5 separate regions of the Homo sapiens genome follow, and regions 1, 2, 4 and 5 are each reported to be linked to region 3. Evidence: microRNA targets listed by miRTarBase, many of them from high-throughput screens and not tested one by one. Region 3 holds a microRNA gene; each other region holds the end of a gene's coding sequence.
The links. The annotated mature microRNA hsa-miR-6737-5p reads UUGGGGUGGUCGGCCCUGGAG and lies in region 3 at 2,467-2,487, shown strand. An mRNA with a match to its seed (bases 2 to 7 or 8) in the 3' UTR can be bound and repressed. Matches are read on the target gene's strand: a 7mer-m8 pairs with bases 2 to 8, a 7mer-A1 pairs with bases 2 to 7 and ends in A, and an 8mer does both.

Region 1: the mRNA of C8orf58 is a reported target of hsa-miR-6737-5p. Seed matches in the 3' UTR shown: 7mer-A1 at 2,680-2,686.
Region 2: the mRNA of USH1G is a reported target of hsa-miR-6737-5p. Seed matches in the 3' UTR shown: 7mer-m8 at 3,023-3,029 and 7mer-m8 at 2,046-2,052.
Region 4: the mRNA of BMP2 is a reported target of hsa-miR-6737-5p. Seed matches in the 3' UTR shown: 7mer-m8 at 845-851.
Region 5: the mRNA of MUC17 is a reported target of hsa-miR-6737-5p. Seed matches in the 3' UTR shown: 7mer-m8 at 579-585.

The regions. Positions count from the first base shown.
Region 1 is chr8:22,602,449-22,606,714 of GRCh38, reverse strand. C8orf58 (chromosome 8 open reading frame 58) reads right to left here. Exons shown (of 7, transcript NM_001013842.3): 6 at 4,072-4,178; 7 at 2,573-3,520. The coding sequence ends at 3,409. CCAR2 (cell cycle and apoptosis regulator 2) reads right to left here and starts at 1,958. Exons shown (of 21, transcript NM_001393997.1): 1 at 1,873-1,958; 2 at 884-979; 3 at 539-630; 4 at 17-108. The coding sequence starts at 941. It overlaps LOC107986876 (a long non-coding RNA gene), which reads left to right and starts at 1,715. Exons shown (of 1, transcript NR_160769.1): 1 at 1,715-3,582. RefSeq lists silencers at 1,541-1,600, 1,661-1,960 and enhancers at 1,624-2,124, 2,131-2,240.
Region 2 is chr17:74,914,559-74,918,814 of GRCh38, forward strand. USH1G (USH1 protein network component sans) reads right to left here. Exons shown (of 3, transcript NM_173477.5): 3 at 1,525-3,518. The coding sequence ends at 3,515. Among named protein-coding and RNA genes, the nearest start is that of USH1G, 6.6 kb to the right of the region's middle.
Region 3 is chr1:153,960,570-153,964,881 of GRCh38, reverse strand. It overlaps MIR6737 (microRNA 6737), which reads left to right and starts at 2,462; the gene lies at 2,462-2,531. SLC39A1 (solute carrier family 39 member 1) reads left to right here and starts at 1,345. Exons shown (of 4, transcript NM_001271958.2): 1 at 1,345-1,387; 2 at 2,135-2,353; 3 at 2,532-2,662; 4 at 4,128-4,312. The coding sequence starts at 2,167. RefSeq lists enhancers at 969-1,248, 1,289-1,458, 1,609-1,668, 558-1,757, 1,709-1,778 and 1 more.
Region 4 is chr20:6,778,326-6,782,637 of GRCh38, forward strand. It overlaps BMP2 (bone morphogenetic protein 2), which reads left to right. Exons shown (of 3, transcript NM_001200.4): 3 at 1-1,921. The coding sequence ends at 764. Among named protein-coding and RNA genes, the nearest start is that of BMP2, 13 kb to the left of the region's middle.
Region 5 is chr7:101,057,753-101,062,005 of GRCh38, forward strand. It overlaps MUC17 (mucin 17, cell surface associated), which reads left to right. Exons shown (of 13, transcript NM_001040105.2): 13 at 251-1,107. The coding sequence ends at 292. It also overlaps the pseudogene RN7SKP54. Among named protein-coding and RNA genes, the nearest start is that of TRIM56, 26 kb to the right of the region's middle.

The DNA of each region.
Region 1 (4,266 bases), not on the chromosome of region 3:
CCAACCTCAAGCCTACCTTAGCTGAAAAAAGACCTCTTCATCCACAACCCCAAAGTAGTCATGCAAGCTGGTAACAATACCAGTGAAGACCCGCTGTTTCTCCCCACCCTGTAAGAGAAGGAGACAGCTGAAAAGTAAAAGGGAGGAAACTGGACAAAATCACACTCTGCCATGAAGGTCTCATCTCAACCCACGCCCCAGCTCAGCGTACTGCATCAAGAGTTCGCACAGAGTGAAGTACAGGTGTGGTGGGCATACTCCATCATTAGGGGTTGGGGCATGTTTGAGCTGGTTCTTGACCCACAAGCTTCTTCTGGGATTTCCAGTTCATTAATTCCAAGACGTAAGCTAAAGATTTCCCTGGAGCGAGAAATGAAGATGCCCCAGTCTGAAGGCTATCTGGGCAACCCCATACTAGCCCACTACCAGGAGAGGGATCAGGAATGATAAACACTATTATGTAAGAGAAAAAGAGCACCAGGCCTCCATGCATTCAGTCCCAAGGGCTGAAACTTACTACAAGGGATGCCGAACCTACCTGAAGGTGCCTGGCATTCTGGGACAGTTCTGTGGCCACAGGAGGAGTGAGCAAACCAGGAGGAGGGCCCAGAAGAGATGTTGAAGCTGTGCCTATGGGGAAAGAGAAGCAATCTCCAGGAACCGCCCCTACCACCTTAAGCACGAGTCAACCAAAGGATGTGGTAAATCCAAAGGCTACAGCTCCAGCCAGCTCCTCCACAGAGCTTCACTGGCAATCACTGTGGGCATCTCCTGCTTTCCAGAGGAACATCAGCAGCAAATTGCTCTCCACCAGGGAAACCCCAAACTAACTCCAGAGCACATACTTCCCAGGATGAGGCCAGGTAGGGAGAACAGTGATCACCTGAGAAGTTGCGTCCCCCTGGAAGCGGGTTGATCCGCTGGCGCTTAAACTGGGACATTGGGAACGCTGTCCTCTTTCAGAGTCGTGGGGAAAAGGCTTCAATCCAAAAAGAAAGAAATTAACAGCTTATAAGGGAAATTTCCATCTATACCCGGAAAAGTGGAGAATCTTAAGTAAGGATATTTCGGAAAACAGGGAGGTGGGTAATAAGAATGAATGAAAGCAATGGATGGAGAGAATATAGAGAAGAAAGAAATGAAACAAGAAATTACATTGTTCCAGTTTGCCCTGACAATAACCTAGTGGTGCATGATACTGTCATGCTGTTTTACAGACAAGGAAACTGATGCTCAGAGAGATCAAGAGACTTGCCCGGGGCCACATAACCAGGTAGTGACAAAACTGCTACTCACACCCAGGCCTCCCAACAACTTAGCGCTCCTCTCACTATGCCACGCCACCCCCAGAGTAGCTGGCGGGGTGAGGGGCTCGAGAGAGCCCCGATGACATTCCTTCGTTCAAAAACATCCGCCAAAACCCTCCACGCAAGGCCCGGAAAAATGGAGGAGGCCGGTGCCGGCGAGGAGACTGTGTGGGCCCTCTCCCCGGAAGCCCGACCCGTTGTTTCCTCGACCGGCTGGTGGGAAGGCAGCTCCCTGGCCGACCAAACGCGAAACCGGCTGCGCGCCACCCTCCTGCTCCCACGCTCCCGGGCCCTCCGCTCCGGCCTCAGCAGCCGCCAGCGCCGGGTCTCCCAGCAGAGCCGCGGCGAGGCCACCAAGGGAGGACTGAGGCGCGCGGTTTCTCCTCCTCCCGCCCGCCCCCAAGGCCGAGGCCGTTGCCAGGGAGACGGGACTTGCAGTCCAAAGAGGGGCTCGGCCCCTTCCGCGCCCCACGCATCTTCGCCGCCCGGCCCTCGCAGCCCCTCGGCCAGCGGAGGGGCGGAGGGGCGAAGGGGCAGAGGGGCGGCAGGGGGCCCCCCAACCCACCTGCGGGCCAGGGCAGCGACACCGGGGGGACAAAGACACCCGGAACCACCACAGCCGCTGCTGCCGCCGCCACCGGAAGCGCCTCTCCGGAAGCGCGACCACTGGTCGGAAGCTGCCGCTCTCCCGGATATGGTCCCTCCCTCGTCTCCGCCGACCTCTCCCTTCCCCCACGCCGGCTTGCCATCCCGCGGCAACTGGGGAGCGGAAGTGCGCCTTCCCGGATCGGATGCGCGTCAGGAAGTCGCGCCTCGGTAGTGTCCTCGCTAAAGAATCCCATCAGGAAAGAAGGCTTCGGATCATTGGTTCCGGGCTCAAAGGAAGCGGGAGCTGGGCCCCCCAAACACAAGGGACCCCCGACTGCCTACCACGCTCGCCTCCCTCTGGCAGTCGAGACTGCAACAGATAAGGAAACCAGCCCCTCCTGACTGGAGGAGAAGGATGCCTATCAGTGACCATTTCTAAGAGACATTCCTGGTCTGACTCAAGCCAGTGACCACCATGCCTAGCCAGTCAGGAATCAGTGCCCTAATTCTCAAATATGAAATCTAAGAGGCCTCAATGAAATGACCTGCTCAAAATCTTGCCAGGAGACTGGCCATTTTAGTCCCCATTAGCAATCCCAGCCCCCCCTTATCCTCCGACCTCCCCATCATCACTCCAGCCTTACTTTCCCCTTTCCTATTCACCTGAGGTTTACAAAGCACTTTGAGGCAGTTTAATCTCACTTTATCCTCATAACAAGTCTGTGAGGTAGATAGGGCAGGCATCATTATTCCCAGCGGGAAGCTGTGGCTCAGAAAGGTTGACTTGGGGTCTAAAAACTAGTACAGGCATCTGGTTTGAATTAAGACCTGTAAACGCTAGTACGGAGCAGAGAAGCTGAGCACTGGCTTTGAAAGTTATTCAGTTCCCAGGTTGTCCCTGATCTTCCTCATTCCTTGTGCAGTCTTCAGGAGTCCGGGGCAAGATTCCATGCAGAGGCAGCCAAAGCCACACCGTTCTCTGTCCCAGGGCTGCCAGCATGGCTCTGAGGAGGAAAGCTCAGTAACTGCCCACTGGGGAATAAAGGTCAGTTCCATCCTTCTGCAGTGACCTCCCCCAGAATATCAACCCTTTGGATGCATTATTTCAGAAGAGATGGTTGGATCCAGCCAGCTTGCAACACTGACAGTCACACAGAGATATGCATACCATTGCGCATAAATACACATCTGCAACATGCTGGGCCCAGACAGGTCACCATGCCAAAAACACTCCACGGACACCTGACAATGAGTGAGTTCACATTGTGGAAGCCCAGGGATTTCTGGTGAGGAGGAAGAGCCCTGGAGCTGCGGCATCTTGGGGGCCTCTCAAGAAACCAAGGTTCCTGACCAGACTGCTTAGAGGAGAAAGATTCAGCCCTCGACTCAAGAGAGGAGGGCAGGCGTCAGCAGCTTTTCCTGGCAATGTGGAGAAGCAGCAAGAGGGCAGAGGGCGAGGAAGACTTCACAGCAAGTCCCCTCCACCCAGGGTCACCAGGTGCACCGAGAGGTCTCAGCCTACAGAAAGGTTTTTTGCTCGTTGCTTCTTAACCACTAATGATGGCATAAAGGTCTTCCGGTGGGGGCGGCACTGAGGCCTTTCAGGGAGGTCCCTGGACTCGATCCTGTGGAATGAAAAGAAGACATTAGGCTAGAAGGGGGAAATAAAACTAACAATGGCCCTAGAGTTGAGAGAACGTGGTTTATCTGCTGGTGGGTAGCTGGGTGTGGGCGCAGCCCGGGGCTGTTAAATGACTTGGTATTTCTTCCTCCTGGAGAACGATTCAATACAAGCCCCGAAGCATGATGGCCTTCACCCACTGTGAAATCCTTTGTGCTCCACCTTGCTCTCCCCACGAACCTGGAAGGTGGCCTAAATGTCAGCATTGAGGGTGAGGGGTTGCTGAGCTAGGGTAGGCAGATTTCCCACATTCTGGTCCTAGCTGTCACTGACTCACCGTGCGGCTTTGGAAAAGCAACTACCCCCAACCCCACCCAGAACCCTGCCTCCTTATCTGTAAATGGGGTGTTTTAACTACTGTTTCTTCTAGCAGCCCCTCCCAGACTGCCTCTCAAGTTTTGCGGGGACAATAATGACAACTGGCATGACAATCTCAGCATCCTGGCTTATCAGTCTCCTCTCCGTGCCCTAACCTGGGCTGGGCACGGGGCTCACCTGGGGTCAGAGCCATCAGGAGGGGCAGGGGGCTCAGGGTGGTGGTGGCTTCTCCGGCAGATCCGGTTGAGCAGGACCTTGACCTTGTCCCAGTGGGAGATATCCCGCTGAGCAGAGGATGAGGGGTCACCCAGAGCCCTCCCCACACTCAGACCCCCGACCAAGCTCCCAGAGACAGCTGTCGCCACAGCCAGG
Region 2 (4,256 bases), not on the chromosome of region 3:
AACAATCCACTCACCTCTACCTCCCAAAGTGCTAAAACGTCCCTTTTTTTTTTTTTTTTTTTTTTTGAGACGGAGTCTCGCTCTGTCGCCCAGGCTGGAGTGCAGTGGCGCAATCTCGGCTCACTGCAAGCTCTGCCTCCCGGGTTCACACCATTCTCCTGCCTCAGCCTCCCAAGTAGCTGGGACTACAGGCGCCCACCACCACGTCAGGCTAATTTTTTGTATTTTTAGTAGAGACAGAGTTTCACCATGTTAGCCAGGATGGTTTCGATCTCCTGACCTCGTAAATGTCCCTATTCTTGATCTAAATCTTTAGGGAAATGAGTCATGAAAGTTGAGCCCCTACCATGTAATATTTTCTCCTCTTTGCTTGTGTTGAACATCCCCACAGGCTCCCTGGAGCAGCTCCTGCTCCTGGCACCCCAGGCTTCTGCCCTGGAGCCACACTGACCCATGGAGCCCCTCATCCTGCTGCCTCTGGTTCATCTCTGCTGGGATGCCAAAGTGCCCCTCGGCTCTCTGTCTTGTCATTCCTCACCCGTGTCCTCTTCTGGACCATCGCGGCAAGGACCAGTGAGTCTTTCCTGAGGTGGGTGCAGTGACCAGGATGGCCAAAGAAGCCGCAGGGAGGTGCGCCCCCAGGGCATGGCTGGTGGAATCCTGTTGTGTTAGCGCCCTTGGCAGCCTGAGTGTGAGGAGAGCATGGCAGCAGCCAGAGACCCGCGTTCTGGGTCTGACTCTTCCCCTCTGTGGGCCTCAGTTTTTCCATCTGTAAAGTGGAGGGAGGTGGCTTGGAACCCCTGGATGGTTGCTAGGCAACCTTCCTGCACCAACATCCTGGGGACCTTTCTGATTGATGCTGAGGGAAGGGAACTGTCTTGAACTCCCTTTGGCAGAAGAAACTGGCCCAGCAGCTTAGGCAATGGAGCAAGATGACTCCAGGGCCCTTCCTCAGACCTGACTGAGAAAACAGAGCCCACTAGGCACCAGCTTATGGAGGAGACTCACCCCTGGGAGAAAGCAGGGCTTCAAATCAGGCTGCCCACGAGCTGCCTGCGGTGATGAGGGACATGGAGACCCCTCTGGGCCTCTGGAGGGCCCTCATGGAGACCCCTCCAGAGGCCCAGAGCCCAGGTGACAGGCAGCAGCCTCCTGGAGTATGTTTCTGCCCATCTCTGGAAAAACCCAGGTAGGCACTGGTGGGAAGAGAGAACATGCATCCTCCTGCCCTCCGTAGCTGCAGGCCCTGGCAACAAGCCTGGAGGCTCAGCCATCCTCCTTGCTCAGGGGGACTCTCCTGCCCTAGTTCTCAGCCCTGCCTCTCCACCAGCTCCTAATTCTGGGCTGAGCTAGGAGAGCAGGTAAAGGCCTAGGGATCCCTGCAAAGATGCACAGCATGGGGTCTCGAAGACACTCCAGAGAATAGGACCCAGTCCTCACAAGCGCAGAGCAGACCCCCTCCCGCCCCCACCCCCACCCTTCCACTCTTCACTCTATCCCCAAAGCATTAAAGGACAAGACAGGTACGATACTGATAGAGAACATTCTCTACAAAAGTGGCAATGAGCCTGCAGGAGGGATTCGGGGTACAGTGGTGGGAGCACAGAGCCTGCTCCACCCCAGCACCAGAAGAACCAGGAGGGGCTGCGGCAGTAAACGGACGAGGAACAGGAGAGAAGGGGCAGCACCTGGGGCTCTGGGAGAAACAAGTCGGCACTTGGGGGTGGCCCCAGGCTCAGGCCCAGAGAACAGGGAGAAGAGCTGTGGTGGGCTCCAGATGGCGGTGGCAGGCAGCCAAGCCCTCAGTGTCCTGCAGTAGGACAGGGACCATCTCCTCCATGCCCCCTACTCTGGGCACATGTGTGGGAATGGGAACCCCCAGACAGACCAGAAAGAGGCCTTTGAGGGCTCTCTTTCCCCTGCCCCAGCCATGGGGGCCCCAGGAGATGCTGGGGGCTGAGGCCATGCTCCCAGCAGGAGCTGCTTCCCAAGCTGAGGTCAGGGATGGGGGGCCATGGCTGAGAAAGGAGGAGAGCACCTCTGCATGGGGTGCAAAGGGGCGCACACGTGTCAGCGGGCTCATCAGGGACTCTCCCACATCTGTGACCTCAGTCTGGCTGGAGAGCTTTGGGGGCATACGTCAGAGGACACATGCTGTGACCACCCTCTGAGCTGGCCTTTCCCCTGGTCTCACCACCATCAGAGGGCTGGGACACAGGTGAGCTCTCTTACCCCCGATCCACGCAGAATCACGCAACAGCCCAGTCCCTACCAGACCTGGAGGGAAACCTACCAAACACCACCCAACGTGAGTGTGCACACACGCACACATGCACACACACACACATGCATGCACACACACACATGCACACACATGCATGCACACACACAAACACGCACGCGTTCACGTGCACACACACGCACACATGTATGCAAGAACACACACACCCAAGCACACACCCGTGCTCACACATACCACATACTTACACACACATGCATGCACACACGCATACATGCACACAAACATGCACACGCACACAGCCCTGGTGACCTGGGGACAATCTGCAGTTTAGAGGATCCACTTTCTCCAGTGTCCACATCGCAGGACTTACCCACCCCAGGCCTGACACCCAGCCACACCCTGTTCTGCCTGTCCCAGGCCTGGGAGACTGAGGAGGTTGGCGGACACCTTTCTCTAGCCCAGCGCATGCCTGCCAGGCCTGGGGGCTATAATACTGCAGCCCATTGGTCTAGCACCTTGCATCTAGCGCCCTGGCCCTCTGGGGTCCCTGGGGGGCCAGGCTGCACAACGAAAAAGGGGGAGGTTGGAGGAAGACAGGCCAGGCTCCACCCCTGGATGAGCTGGGAAGGGCGTCAGTACCCCCACCCCACCCCAACCCGGCTTTCCAGCTCCGGGCCTTGACCACTAGGTGAAGGAGGGGGAGCTGGCTATGCTTGGGATGGGGTACAGACTGAAAGTTGGGGCATTTGGCTGAAGAGTCTGGCTGAGGAACTTCCCCTCTGGGGTGGACGGGAGGAGGGGAGGCAGCCCAAACTCTTCCCTTCACAACAATGCAGGAAGTGAGCAAGTCTCTGGCCTGAGCACAAGAGAACAAGACCATCAGGGGAGGGGTGGGAGAGGCCACGGCGCCCGGGACAGGTGCACCCTCCCGCATCCACCTCCCACACTCTCATCCAGTTCCGATGCCCCTGCCCTCCCTCTGGGGCAGGCCTCCCCCAAGTCTACATGTCCTTTACGGCTGCTCAGAATGGGTGGCTCAGGGCCTTCAAGACCCCTCAGAACTGGAGTTCCGGAACATTCTCTTGCCCCTCTGGTGCCTCCAGGCCACACCCTCAGCTTCAAGGTGCAGACAGACTTTCAAAGGAGTCGCCCCAACTGGTCCTTGCTCCTGGGGAAGGGGGCTGCAGGGCTGGCAACTGTGAGGACCTCGAGACCCCACCATAGGTTGTGGCAACTTGCAATTCATTTTGGTCTGGGGAGAGGAGCCCCCGGTTATCTGTGGAGGAAGAGACAGAAAGAAACAGATCTCACATGAGGCCCTCCAGAGGCATCATTTTCACCCAGGGCAGCCATCTGGACAACTTAGCCTCCCCATCTCTCGGCAGGCCAATTGTCAGGGATGGGGGACGCCAGCCTATGGGTGACCTCCCCATCCCCAAAACTCTGAACCAGCCTGCCTCCCCACACCCATCCCTGCCCCAGCCATTCAGGATAACGGCCATAGATACCTAAGAGGAAATGAGGACAAAGTTTGTTGGGCCTGTGGGATGCCATTGGGGAGGGGCCAGGGCAGGGGCTGGCCACAGCATGACCATTGTGGTGGCAGCCTTGGGCAACTATGACGGCCTTTGGAACATGAACTCTGCCTCCAGGGCTGCTGCTGACCCTCTTGGGAGCATTTGCCCACGTTCCTGATTGCAAAGTTCAGGAACAGTAGGTAAAACATCTCCCTAAGGCCAGGCGCGGTGGCTCACGCCTGTAATCCCAGCACTTTGGGAGGCCAGAGTGGGCAGATCACTTGAGGTCAGGAGTTCGAGACCAGCCTGGCCAACATGGCAAAACCCCATCTCTACTAAAAATACAGAAATTAGCTGGGCATGGTGGTGCACTCCTGTAATCCCAGCTACTCAGGAGGCTGAGGCAGGAGAATCGCTTGAACCCGGGAGGTGGAGGTTACAGTGATTGTGCCACTGCACTCCAGCCTGGATGACAAGAGGGAAACTGTCTCAAAAAA
Region 3 (4,312 bases):
TGCAATTTCCGGCTCCCGGGTTCAAGCGATTCTCCTGCCTCGGCCTCCCGAGTAGCTGGGATTACAGGCCCCCGCCACCACGCCCGGCTAATTTTTGTATATTTAGTAGAGACGGGGTTTCACCATGTTGACCAGGCTGGTCTTGAACTTCTGTCCTCAGGTGATTCATCCTCGGCCTTCCAAAGTGCTTGGATTACAGGCGTGAACCACCGCGCCCGGCCCCTTAAGAAGTCTTCACATTCCTCTTTTACTTAAGGAATTACTGGGCTTCGTTTCTGGAGCCTTGTGAGAAGCATTACACTGTCCCCCCTTTTTTTTTTCTTTTTTAAAATTAATTTTCCTGTAGGAAGCAAGATCCCATCTGTCCCTTCTTTAGGCAATGAAGCTTTTTTCACCTTTGCATAAAAGAACAGCTGAGCCCCCTTTTTAAATTTTCTTTTGTCTTACCGTCCCTTGAGGCTAGAAGAGGATTCTCAAGGCACAGAGTTGTGGGCCACAAGAATCCAGGTTGAGGAAACGGTGAAAGTCCTGAGCTGAAACAACTACCTTGGGGCATTCAAGGAACAGCAAACAGCAAACCGACCGGCGAGGGTGGCGGGAGCTGGGCTGGAAATCAGGTGGGAGAACCGGCCAGACGCCCGCAGGCGCGGTACGCAGATATCCTGGAATGCGCTGGGGGCTCTTCCCTGGGCGCGGCTTCAGCACCCCGCATTCCGGTCCCACCACGTCCCCACCCACCTGGAGAAGGCGGAGGCTGCACTGAGTGCCATAAGTAGTCGAGAAGGGATGATTTTCAAGACATACCCTCTCTTTGCTTTCCCCCCTTTCCAATTCTGCCTTGTCTTTTTCCTTGTTGTGGGTGCTGGTGAGGGAAAGCAGTCAAGGAAGTTGGTCCCAAGAGGGGAATGCTTTCCCTTGGGCGCCAAGAGGCACTGACGAGGTGTCAGAGCCTTCTGAGGGACAGATGAGACTTTGGCCCAAGGCCAGGAAGATGTTTTCAGATGTGGGCCGGAAGACTTGACAATGCGGGGTCTCCCTCTTTTAAAAATATCCATATAATCAAAGCCTTTGTTGACTGGCCCGCTCCGGCCCCTCAGTCCTCCACAGATGCGCCCCAGGGCCCCAGCCCCGAGGTCCTTTTCCTAATATCCGCTCTTGCTCTCGCTCACTCTCCTCAGGTCGCCTGCTCCGCCCGCTCCCGCTCCCGATCTCTGATTGCTCCTAACTGACGTCACTCCCGGTCTGTCCCCGCCCACTCGGTGCTGCCATTGGCAGTCGGTCGTGGGTACGCGGCTCCTGTGGGGGAGGGGGGAGCTATGGGAGGGGGCGGGAATTCCCGACTCTAGGCCGGAAGCGCGCGGAGACCATGTAGTGAGACCCTCGCGAGGTGAGTGCGGGCTGTCTGGCAGCGGGGTCCATGTCGGCTGCCCAGGCCTCCCCGGGCCCGGGAACAGGAGTCCCAGCTCACGCATTCTTCATCTGCTTCCCGCGACGCTTGGCGGCCTCGCACCCCGCCTCCTGGAGCCCGGACTTTCAGGCACCGCCCTCAGTGTCGCCTCAGTCCGTCCCGGGACCGCAGACTCTTAGGGCCCCTCTCTTTGGCCATCTGCCTCTAGGTCCCATCCTGGGGCCTGAAGCGCTTGTTCTCTGCGCTGGGAAAAGGGGAACGATGGAGCGATCCAGCACCCAAACTTACCCTGTCCAGGTGGCCCACGAAGCTACCCAAGACATCTCTGCACAGCCCTAGCCTTTTTGGCTTCACCCACTCCGTTCGGGAGTTGGGGACCCGGCCTCTACATTCCTTAGGGGAACTCCAGCTCCAGGTCCTATTTGGAGGCGGCTCCTAGTTTCCTAGTTTTCTGGGGGCACCAGGTGAAAGGGTGATGAGATATCCATACAGCCTTTCTCATGCCTCGGTTTCCCCCGTGCAGTCTCCCTGAATAAGTCACTTGGGAAAGAAAGTGTGAGAAGAGAGGAATGTTCCTGGTACAGGAGTAGATGAGTCACCCTGGGTAGGGGAAGGTCACAAAGTGGCTGGGGCCAGGGAGCTGCACTCTGCTGACCAAGCTTCCCCATTCCTTGCCCCATCTTCCTTTGCATGATTTTTCCCAACCACTCTGGTCTGTCTTCCTAGGTCTGAGAGTCACTGGAGCTACCAGAAGCATCATGGGGCCCTGGGGAGAGCCAGAGCTCCTGGTGTGGCGCCCCGAGGCGGTAGCTTCAGAGCCTCCAGTGCCTGTGGGGCTGGAGGTGAAGTTGGGGGCCCTGGTGCTGCTGCTGGTGCTCACCCTCCTCTGCAGCCTGGTGCCCATCTGTGTGCTGCGCCGGCCAGGAGCTAACCATGAAGGCTCAGGTAAGCCTCTCCTTTTCCCCACACTGCTATGAATGCTTGGCTTAGGGAGGGCTCTGGGGCTGGCGGGGAGTGACCAAAGGAGGAGGGAAAGGCAAGGGTAGCCATTGTTTGGGTTGGGGTGGTCGGCCCTGGAGGGGGTTTGTTTGCTTATTCCCCTCTGTGCTTCACCCCTACCCAGCTTCCCGCCAGAAAGCCCTGAGCCTAGTAAGCTGTTTCGCGGGGGGCGTCTTTTTGGCCACTTGTCTCCTGGACCTGCTGCCTGACTACCTGGCTGCCATAGATGAGGCCCTGGCAGCCTTGCACGTGACGGTGAGCACTGGCCTGGGCATGTGACTTGCGGGAGGGGAATCACACACCTCTGGGAGTGTTGGTTTGTGGAGATTGATTCATGTGCCACTCCATGACTGTGTGGAAGACTTTTGGCATGTGGTATGAATTGTGATTTTTGGTTATGGGGCATAATTCTTTCTATGTGTTCCCTCCCCCTTCCCCATTCCCTGTGTGACCCCTACATTCCCGTTGAGACAGTAAGACACTTTTTCTCAGGTGTGTGACTTGCTCTATGGGTTCTCAGTTCTAGCTACCAGCAAGTGCTCCAAGAATCATCTTCACTCTCTCACCACTTTCCTAAAGGGCTGGAGATAGAGGTCTCTGTAGGCCTGAGAAGGATAGGAAGCGATTCCCTGGGTCTTGGTGTTGCTAACCTTTTTAGGCTTTGGCCCAAGGAAGTGGGCTGTGAGGAATGATCAAGTCCACGGCATAGGACTTGGTTTATTATAGGAAAAACTGAGGCCGTTGGATAGTGGGGCAGGAAAGTCATCCTGGGCTCTTTCCTTTTTTCCTCTAAAACTGAGGAAGTAACACTGGATGTATCCCTTTGTGTGTCTGTGACTGAGTGACCTGTGTTTCCGTGTGACTGCGTATAAGCCTGAATGTCCTGTGATATGTGGCTCTATGTATGAGTATTTGGGGAGATGGGCAATGTGTGACCTTTTCATGTATGTCTACATCAGTGACTCTCAACTAGGAGTGTGGCTTTGCCCCTCAGGAAACATTTGGTAATGTCTGGGGATATTTTTAGTTGTCACAATGGGGAGGGGGATGGAGGGAACATTGTGCCTGCTATTGGCATCTGGTAAGTAGAGATCAGAAATGCTGTTAAACAATCTACAGTGCACAAGACAGCTCCCATGACAAAGAATTATCTGGCCCAAAATGTTTTTGTTTGTTTGTTTTTGTTTTGTTTTGTTTTTGAGAAAGAGTCTTGCTCTGTTGCCCAGGCTGGAGTGCAGTGGCACAATCTCGACTCACTGCAATCTCTGGCTCCTGGGTTCAAGTGATTCTCCTGGCTCAGACTCCTGAGTAGCTGGGATTACAGGCATCCACCACCACACCCTGCCAATTTTTGTATTTTTAGTAGAGACAGGGTTTCACCATGTTGGCCAGGCTGGTCTCAAACTCCTGACCTCAAGTGATCTTCCCACTTTGGTCTTCCAAAGTGCTGGGATTATAGGCATGAGCCACTGCCCCTGGCCCCAAAATGTTAATAGTTCCAAAGCTGAGAAACTTTGGTCTACACGTAACACTGTGAGTGACACCATAATCTGTGTGTACGTATCATTCTGTGTCAGTGTTACCAATTCACTCTATCTTTGTGTGACTGAGAGTAGCCCTGTGTCTGTGTCAGACCCTAGGTCTGTGTAACTGGGCTTTCACCAGATTTTGCATCTCACTCTTCCTTCCCTGAACATTTTGCTGCTGCTTCTGCCCACAGCTCCAGTTCCCACTGCAAGAGTTCATCCTGGCCATGGGCTTCTTCCTGGTCCTGGTGATGGAGCAGATCACACTGGCTTACAAGGAGCAGTCAGGGCCGTCACCTCTGGAGGAAACAAGGGCTCTGCTGGGAACAGTGAATGGTGGGCCGCAGCATTGGCATGATGGGCCAGGGGTCCCACAGGC
Region 4 (4,312 bases), not on the chromosome of region 3:
AGTTTATCACCTCAGCAGAGCTTCAGGTTTTCCGAGAACAGATGCAAGATGCTTTAGGAAACAATAGCAGTTTCCATCACCGAATTAATATTTATGAAATCATAAAACCTGCAACAGCCAACTCGAAATTCCCCGTGACCAGACTTTTGGACACCAGGTTGGTGAATCAGAATGCAAGCAGGTGGGAAAGTTTTGATGTCACCCCCGCTGTGATGCGGTGGACTGCACAGGGACACGCCAACCATGGATTCGTGGTGGAAGTGGCCCACTTGGAGGAGAAACAAGGTGTCTCCAAGAGACATGTTAGGATAAGCAGGTCTTTGCACCAAGATGAACACAGCTGGTCACAGATAAGGCCATTGCTAGTAACTTTTGGCCATGATGGAAAAGGGCATCCTCTCCACAAAAGAGAAAAACGTCAAGCCAAACACAAACAGCGGAAACGCCTTAAGTCCAGCTGTAAGAGACACCCTTTGTACGTGGACTTCAGTGACGTGGGGTGGAATGACTGGATTGTGGCTCCCCCGGGGTATCACGCCTTTTACTGCCACGGAGAATGCCCTTTTCCTCTGGCTGATCATCTGAACTCCACTAATCATGCCATTGTTCAGACGTTGGTCAACTCTGTTAACTCTAAGATTCCTAAGGCATGCTGTGTCCCGACAGAACTCAGTGCTATCTCGATGCTGTACCTTGACGAGAATGAAAAGGTTGTATTAAAGAACTATCAGGACATGGTTGTGGAGGGTTGTGGGTGTCGCTAGTACAGCAAAATTAAATACATAAATATATATATATATATATATTTTAGAAAAAAGAAAAAAACAAACAAACAAAAAAACCCCACCCCAGTTGACACTTTAATATTTCCCAATGAAGACTTTATTTATGGAATGGAATGGAAAAAAAAACAGCTATTTTGAAAATATATTTATATCTACGAAAAGAAGTTGGGAAAACAAATATTTTAATCAGAGAATTATTCCTTAAAGATTTAAAATGTATTTAGTTGTACATTTTATATGGGTTCAACCCCAGCACATGAAGTATAATGGTCAGATTTATTTTGTATTTATTTACTATTATAACCACTTTTTAGGAAAAAAATAGCTAATTTGTATTTATATGTAATCAAAAGAAGTATCGGGTTTGTACATAATTTTCCAAAAATTGTAGTTGTTTTCAGTTGTGTGTATTTAAGATGAAAAGTCTACATGGAAGGTTACTCTGGCAAAGTGCTTAGCACGTTTGCTTTTTTGCAGTGCTACTGTTGAGTTCACAAGTTCAAGTCCAGAAAAAAAAAGTGGATAATCCACTCTGCTGACTTTCAAGATTATTATATTATTCAATTCTCAGGAATGTTGCAGAGTGATTGTCCAATCCATGAGAATTTACATCCTTATTAGGTGGAATATTTGGATAAGAACCAGACATTGCTGATCTATTATAGAAACTCTCCTCCTGCCCCTTAATTTACAGAAAGAATAAAGCAGGATCCATAGAAATAATTAGGAAAACGATGAACCTGCAGGAAAGTGAATGATGGTTTGTTGTTCTTCTTTCCTAAATTAGTGATCCCTTCAAAGGGGCTGATCTGGCCAAAGTATTCAATAAAACGTAAGATTTCTTCATTATTGATATTGTGGTCATATATATTTAAAATTGATATCTCGTGGCCCTCATCAAGGGTTGGAAATTTATTTGTGTTTTACCTTTACCTCATCTGAGAGCTCTTTATTCTCCAAAGAACCCAGTTTTCTAACTTTTTGCCCAACACGCAGCAAAATTATGCACATCGTGTTTTCTGCCCACCCTCTGTTCTCTGACCTATCAGCTTGCTTTTCTTTCCAAGGTTGTGTGTTTGAACACATTTCTCCAAATGTTAAACCTATTTCAGATAATAAATATCAAATCTCTGGCATTTCATTCTATAAAGTCCAACCTGTAAGAGAAAATGGTGCATTTGTATAGCGCTTACAATGATGACCTTGTGTTTGCATTTTTGTTTCTGAAGTTATATATTTTAGAGGGGGTGGGGGAAAGGTAATGAATGGCTGGAAAATTGCAGGCAAGTTATTTGATAAGTCATATTTGCACTAAAGGTGTTACCAGTGATTTAGTATTTTTCAAATGAACTTCTTTGGGGCAGAAAGATTTAAGGGAAAACTAAAGCCTACAAAACAAGCAAAACCTGGATAACCCGAGATAAAGTTTCAGAGATAATAGCCCATGCAACAGAGGCAACGGTGCCAGAAAATTAGAAAGGGAAAGTGTCGGAGATCAGCTTCTATAAGAACATCTGCCAGTTGGACTGACGCCCAAACAGAATGAAGTCAAATTAGGCTGCTCAGATTGAACACTTACCAGAGTGTCAGGGCTTCTGTACCCTGGGTTAGAATCAGACCAAGGAAGGGTTCAGCAGATGTTCATAAGAGCAGGGCACCCACAACTACCCACTATTTTACTGGCAGTATTTTAGGTCAGTTTCCAGGACTTTGCATCCCCTCTGATCCTGCCATGCATGATTGGTGAAACCTACCTCTAATCTCCTTGGAATTGGCTAAAAAACAGTGTGTTTATAATGGAACAGACTGTTATAATCAAATTCTTCCTAGGAATTAACTTTTGATGACTATGAGCTTAGTTACAGTTCGGAGGTTATGAGGTTATGTAAACCTTATCTTTAAATGTGCATGACAGTTATCTTTTACTAATGCTGGTTAACTTTTAAAATCTTGCAGCTCCTTTTTATCTCTAGTTCTATTGTTCTTGATTAGGTGAGAACCATTAGATCATACCCAACTGAGGGGATTGGGGTCTTGTTTGTTCTCCAGCTGTTCTTCACCCTCTATTGCCATGGACATGAAGGACAGACTGCACGGTCTTAACATGTTAAAACGAATGACCCATGTTTTCTCATATTCACATTCTCTAGATGAGAGCATGAGAGTATAGCACAAGAATTTCATCCTTTGGCAGTTCCATCCACCCTTTTGATTTCTCTGCTTCATTGGTTCTAATATTCTTGGTTAAAACTGTTTTCAATGGTGTCGACTAAAATGTGTTATCTTGCATATGCGTATTTAATATATAAAACATAAAATACATAAATATACATCTAAAGATGTATGTAATATGTAGTACATATGTATAGATGCTGGCATTTTCAGTTTAGTTTCAGAGATTTTATAATCAGACACTCTGACCCTCTTGGAAGCTCACATGAGAAACAATATTTTTACAAACATCCTACATTGTTACAGACATTTTAGCTCACAGTCTTCATTCCGAGGAATAAAGAGTCAAAATGAACATAACACTGAATGTCTTTAATTGCACTCACTATTCTATAGGATCCTTGGAATCATTTCAGAGTTGGCTTTAAAAAGTCCACACATAGTCATTTCTGAATTTTCAGGGGCCCGCCTTTCAAAATCGGTTAAACTGATCATCTGTTTTTGTGCTTGTCTCGACTGCATGTGCCCCTCTGGCATGGTTTTAACCTGTATGGCACGTCCGGGTTACCATGTTCATTATTTGCCTTCAAAAATTAGGAAAAGAGAGTGTGGGCAGCTTACAGATCTATCTGTGCTTCCATCTTTTCATAATTTCTACTTAAATCGCAGCTTTAAATTGTACCTTAAGAGGTCAAGAATGGAGAGATGATCTGTAAACCTGATCTATATAACAAGCTGTATAATCACTACATTACCTAAGCAATCCATATTTTTTCCCTCAATTTATTACTGGAGAGGGAAAATCATGTGCACAATTCAAAGGGCTTTCAAAAATAGCATATTTCTATGCTACTGGCATATTAATGTTAAGATTCACCGAATGTTTACGTGCCACAGCCTCCTTATCTGTTCTAAGGCAAAAGGAACATAGCCTTGCAGTCAAGAGCAATTAAAGCCTATAGTAATTGTGGCATAGATTCATAATCCAAGAAAAGTTAAGAATGTCCTGGCGCCATTTCTCTTCTGTTTTATATTTATTTATTTATTTATTTATTTATTTTTGTGCAGGGAACGGGTAGGGTGAAATGGGGGATAAGATGCAGGTCTGCTCAGCTTGGGTAAATTGCTTTTCCTCTTTCCTCCACCCTGCTGACATAAATTACAGCCTTTTGGTATTCTCCAGGGCAGAATTTTCTGACCATTTCCCTGGCTTGCAAACTTCAAAGTAAACTTCTACCTAACTTAGGGGACCAATGCTCTAAATAAAACTTTAATTTTAATGTGCATCCGAATTACCAGGAATTCTGTAAGGAGAATAAAACTTTAACGTGTATACAGACCCCCGGGAATCATGT
Region 5 (4,253 bases), not on the chromosome of region 3:
ACATGTAGTCCTAGCTACTTGGGAGGCTGAGGTGGGAGGATTGCTTGAGGCCAGAAGTTACAGGCCATGGTGAGCCGTGATTGTGCCACTGCACTCCAGCCTGGATGGCAGAGTAAGACCCTGTCTCAAAAAAATAATAAAAAATAAAAATAATTAAACAGAACACTTCCTATCCCAATCCTCCTTATGCTTCCAGAATCCCAAATTCCTCATGGGCTGAGCCCTCACTTGGTTTTATCTCTCTTTTCAGATCCGAATTCAGAGGCCTCAGGTAATGACGACATCATTTTAAGGCATGGAGCTGAGAAGTCTGGGAGTGAGGAGATCCCAGTCCGGCTAAGCTTGGTGGAGCATTTTCCCATTGAGAGCCTTCCATGGGAACTCAATGTTCCCATTGTAAGTACAGGAAACAAGCCCTGTACTTACCAAGGAGAAAGAGGAGAGACAGCAGTGCTGGGAGATTCTCAAATAGAAACCCGTGGACGCTCCAATGGGCTTGTCATGATATCAGGCTAGGCTTTCCTGCTCATTTTTCAAAGACGCTCCAGATTTGAGGGTACTCTGACTGCAACATCTTTCACCCCATTGATCGCCAGGATTGATTTGGTTGATCTGGCTGAGCAGGCGGGTGTCCCCGTCCTCCCTCACTGCCCCATATGTGTCCCTCCTAAAGCTGCATGCTCAGTTGAAGAGGACGAGAGGACGACCTTCTCTGATAGAGGAGGACCACGCTTCAGTCAAAGGCATACAAGTATCTATCTGGACTTCCCTGCTAGCACTTCCAAACAAGCTCAGAGATGTTCCTCCCCTCATCTGCCCGGGTTCAGTACCATGGACAGCGCCCTCGACCCGCTGTTTACAACCATGACCCCTTGGACACTGGACTGCATGCACTTTACATATCACAAAATGCTCTCATAAGAATTATTGCATACCATCTTCATGAAAAACACCTGTATTTAAATATAGAGCATTTACCTTTTGGTATATAAGATTGTGGGTATTTTTTAAGTTCTTATTGTTATGAGTTCTGATTTTTTCCTTAGTAAATATTATAATATATATTTGTAGTAACTAAAAATAATAAAGCAATTTTATTACAATTTTCATGGTTCCCAGATCTTTCCTCCTGTTTCCCATAGCTCCTGTTTCTAACCTCCCAGACTCTCTCTCTCTCCTCCAGAACATAAAATCGGATGCTTTTGGGGTTCAAGACAACAAGAGAGAGATTTGCAGTGGAAAGAGGACCATTCCTTGAACTCCACTGACACCATTTGCTGGTGTCCAAGAGGCAAGGCAGACAGACAGACAGACACACACACACATATACACATACACACAGAGGGGGGGGGGGGAGAGAGAGAGAGAGAGAGAGAGAGAGAGAGAGAGAGAGAGAGACTCACTTCCTACCAAAGAAAACCAAATTTTGCAAGCTCTCCTTCTGAAAACGGGCTTTTATTTCTTTCCATACATCTAAAGAGATAGAGACCTGGGTTCTATTTCAAGCTTTCTCGTGAATTCCTTGGGTTAAATCTGGGAAAAATCTATTTGGACTCAGTCTTGCCTTCTGCCGAATAAGGACTAGGTTATTTCTAAAGCCTCTTTCATCGCTGTCCTTCTTAATATTCCTAGGACGCTTTTTAATAATTATTGTTATTCCAGCCATGCCGCTCAGGATTCATTGTATTCTTGAAAGTCTGTCCCACCCGCCACCCGCTTCAAAGCCTAACCTGAGACAGAACCTGGACTCTGCTTCCCCCTACTGGACACTCTGAGCACCTGCAGGCACCATGCCGTTTCTCAGCGGTCCCCTTCTGGCCTCTCCTGTGACAAAAATATTCCGTTACACTTGATCATTTCCATATTTGCCATCAAAATTCTGTTTCTTTTCTTTTCCTTTTTTTGAAACAAAGTCTCACTCTTTCGCAAAGGCCAAAGCACAGTGGTGTGATCACTGCTCACTGCAACCTTGAGCTCCTGGGCTCAAGAATTCCTCCAGCCTCAGCCTCCCAAGTAACTGAGACCACAGATGCCGGCCACCACGCCCGGCTAATTTTTAATTTTTTCGTAGAGACGGGGTTTCGCTGTATTGTCCAGGCTGGTCTTGAATTCCTAGGCTCAAACGATCCAACCACTTCTGTCTCCCAAAATGCTGGGATTCCAGGCATGAGCCACTATGCCCGGCCTTTTTTTTTTTTTTTAATTTTGAAAATTTGCAAATCTACAGGGAAGTTAAAACAATAAAGTTAAAAAAGTGAACCCTACCTGGGCGTGGTGGCTCACGCCTGTAATCCCAGCACTTTGGGAGGCCGAGGCAGGCGGATCACCTGAGGTCAGGAGTTCAAGACCAGCCTGGCCAACATGGTAAAACCCTGACTCTATTAAAAATACAAAAACTAGCCGGGAATGGTGGCGCATGCCTGTAATCCCACTTACTTAGGAGGCTGAGGCAGGAGAATGGCTTGAACCTGGGAGGCGGAGGTTGCAGTGAGCGGAGATCGTACCACTGCATTCCAGCCTGGGTGACAGAGAGAGTCTGTCTTAAAAAAAAAAAAAAATTACACATATATATGTATATATAACAGTGAACCCCATATAACCTTCACCTGGAGTTATCAGTTGTTAACGTTGTGTCCTATTTGCTCTAAAGTGGTATGTATTTTTTCGAATTAAGCAAAATTGGAAATTAAAAATTAGAAAAGTTACAAATAAAAAATTACCACGAACCTGACCTTTTTTTTTTTAATTTTAGACTCAAGGGGTACATGTGCAGGTTTGTTTCAAAGGTATATTGTGTGGTGCTGAGGCTTAGAGTATGAATAAATCTGTCACACAGGTAGTGAGCATAGTACCCAATAGGTAGTTTTTCTCTTTTTTTCTTTTCTTCTTTTTTTTTTTTTTTTTTTGAGACCGAGACTCGCGGTCACCCAGGCTGGAGCGCAGTGGCACAATCTCAGCTCACTGCAACCTCTGCCTCCCGGGTTCAAGTGGTTCTCCTGCCTCAGCCTCCCGAGTAGCTGGGATTACAGGCGTGCACCACCTTGCCTGGTTAATTTTTATATTTTTAGTAGAGACGGAGTTTTGCCATGTTAGCCAGGCTGGTCTGGAATGCCTGACCTCAAGTGATCTGCCTGCCTTGGCGTCCCAAAATGCTGAGATTACAGGCATGAGCCACCACACCCGGCCCCAATAGGTATTTTTCCGACCCTTGACCCCCTCCCTCCTTCTCTGATTTTGGGGTCCCCAGTGTCAGCTGTTCCCATATTTGCGTCCATGTACACTCAATGTTTAGCACTCACTTATAAGCAAGAACATGCGGTATTTGGTTCTCTGTCTTTGTGTTAATTCATTTAGGATAATGGCCTCTAGTTGCATCCACGTTGCTGCAAAGGACGATTTCATTGTTTTATTTATGGCTGCATAGTATTCCATGGTGTACATGTACCACATTTTCTTTACCCAATCCACCATTGATGGGCACCTAGGTTGATTCCATGTCTTTGTTACTGTGAATAGTGCTGCAATAAACGTACAGGTGCAGGTGTGTTGGGGGTAGAATAGTTTATTTTTCCTTGGAGTACATACCCAGTAATGAACAATCCTCAGTTCCCAAAACTGAGCTGAATTCATACATCTTCACTTTCAGACCTGCCTCCTGCCTCCCATAGGCATCTGTGGCCATGGGAGCGGGGACTTAACAGGGCTACAGACCCCACATCCCATCTGGAACTGAAATCTCAGCACCTTCCCACTCTCTCATCCTATCTGTGAAACGGAGAGGCAGGACAGAGCACCCAGACCCATAGGCTGCCCAGGTCCACTCTTGGTGAGCCATTTACTACCTGCGTGAGCTTGGGAAAGTAACTTCTTCTCTCTGAACCTCTGCTCCCTCAGCTGTAAAAACAAAAAACAAAAAACAAACAAACAAAAAAAACACAACAACAACAACAAAACTGAGTAGCTGGGCGTGGTGACTCACATCTGTAATCTCAGCACTTTGGGAGGCTGAGGCCGGTGGATCACCTGAGGTCAGGAGTTTGAGACCAGCCTGGCCAACATGGTGAATTCCCGTCTCTACTAAAAATAGGAAAATTAGCCAGGTGTGGTGGCACACACCTGTAACCCCAGCTACTTGGGAGGCTGAGGCAGAAGAATCACTTGAACCTGGGAGGCAGAAGTTACAGTGAGCCGAGATTGCACCATTGCACTCCAGCCAGGGCAATAAGAGCAAAACAACTCTGTATTCAAAAAGA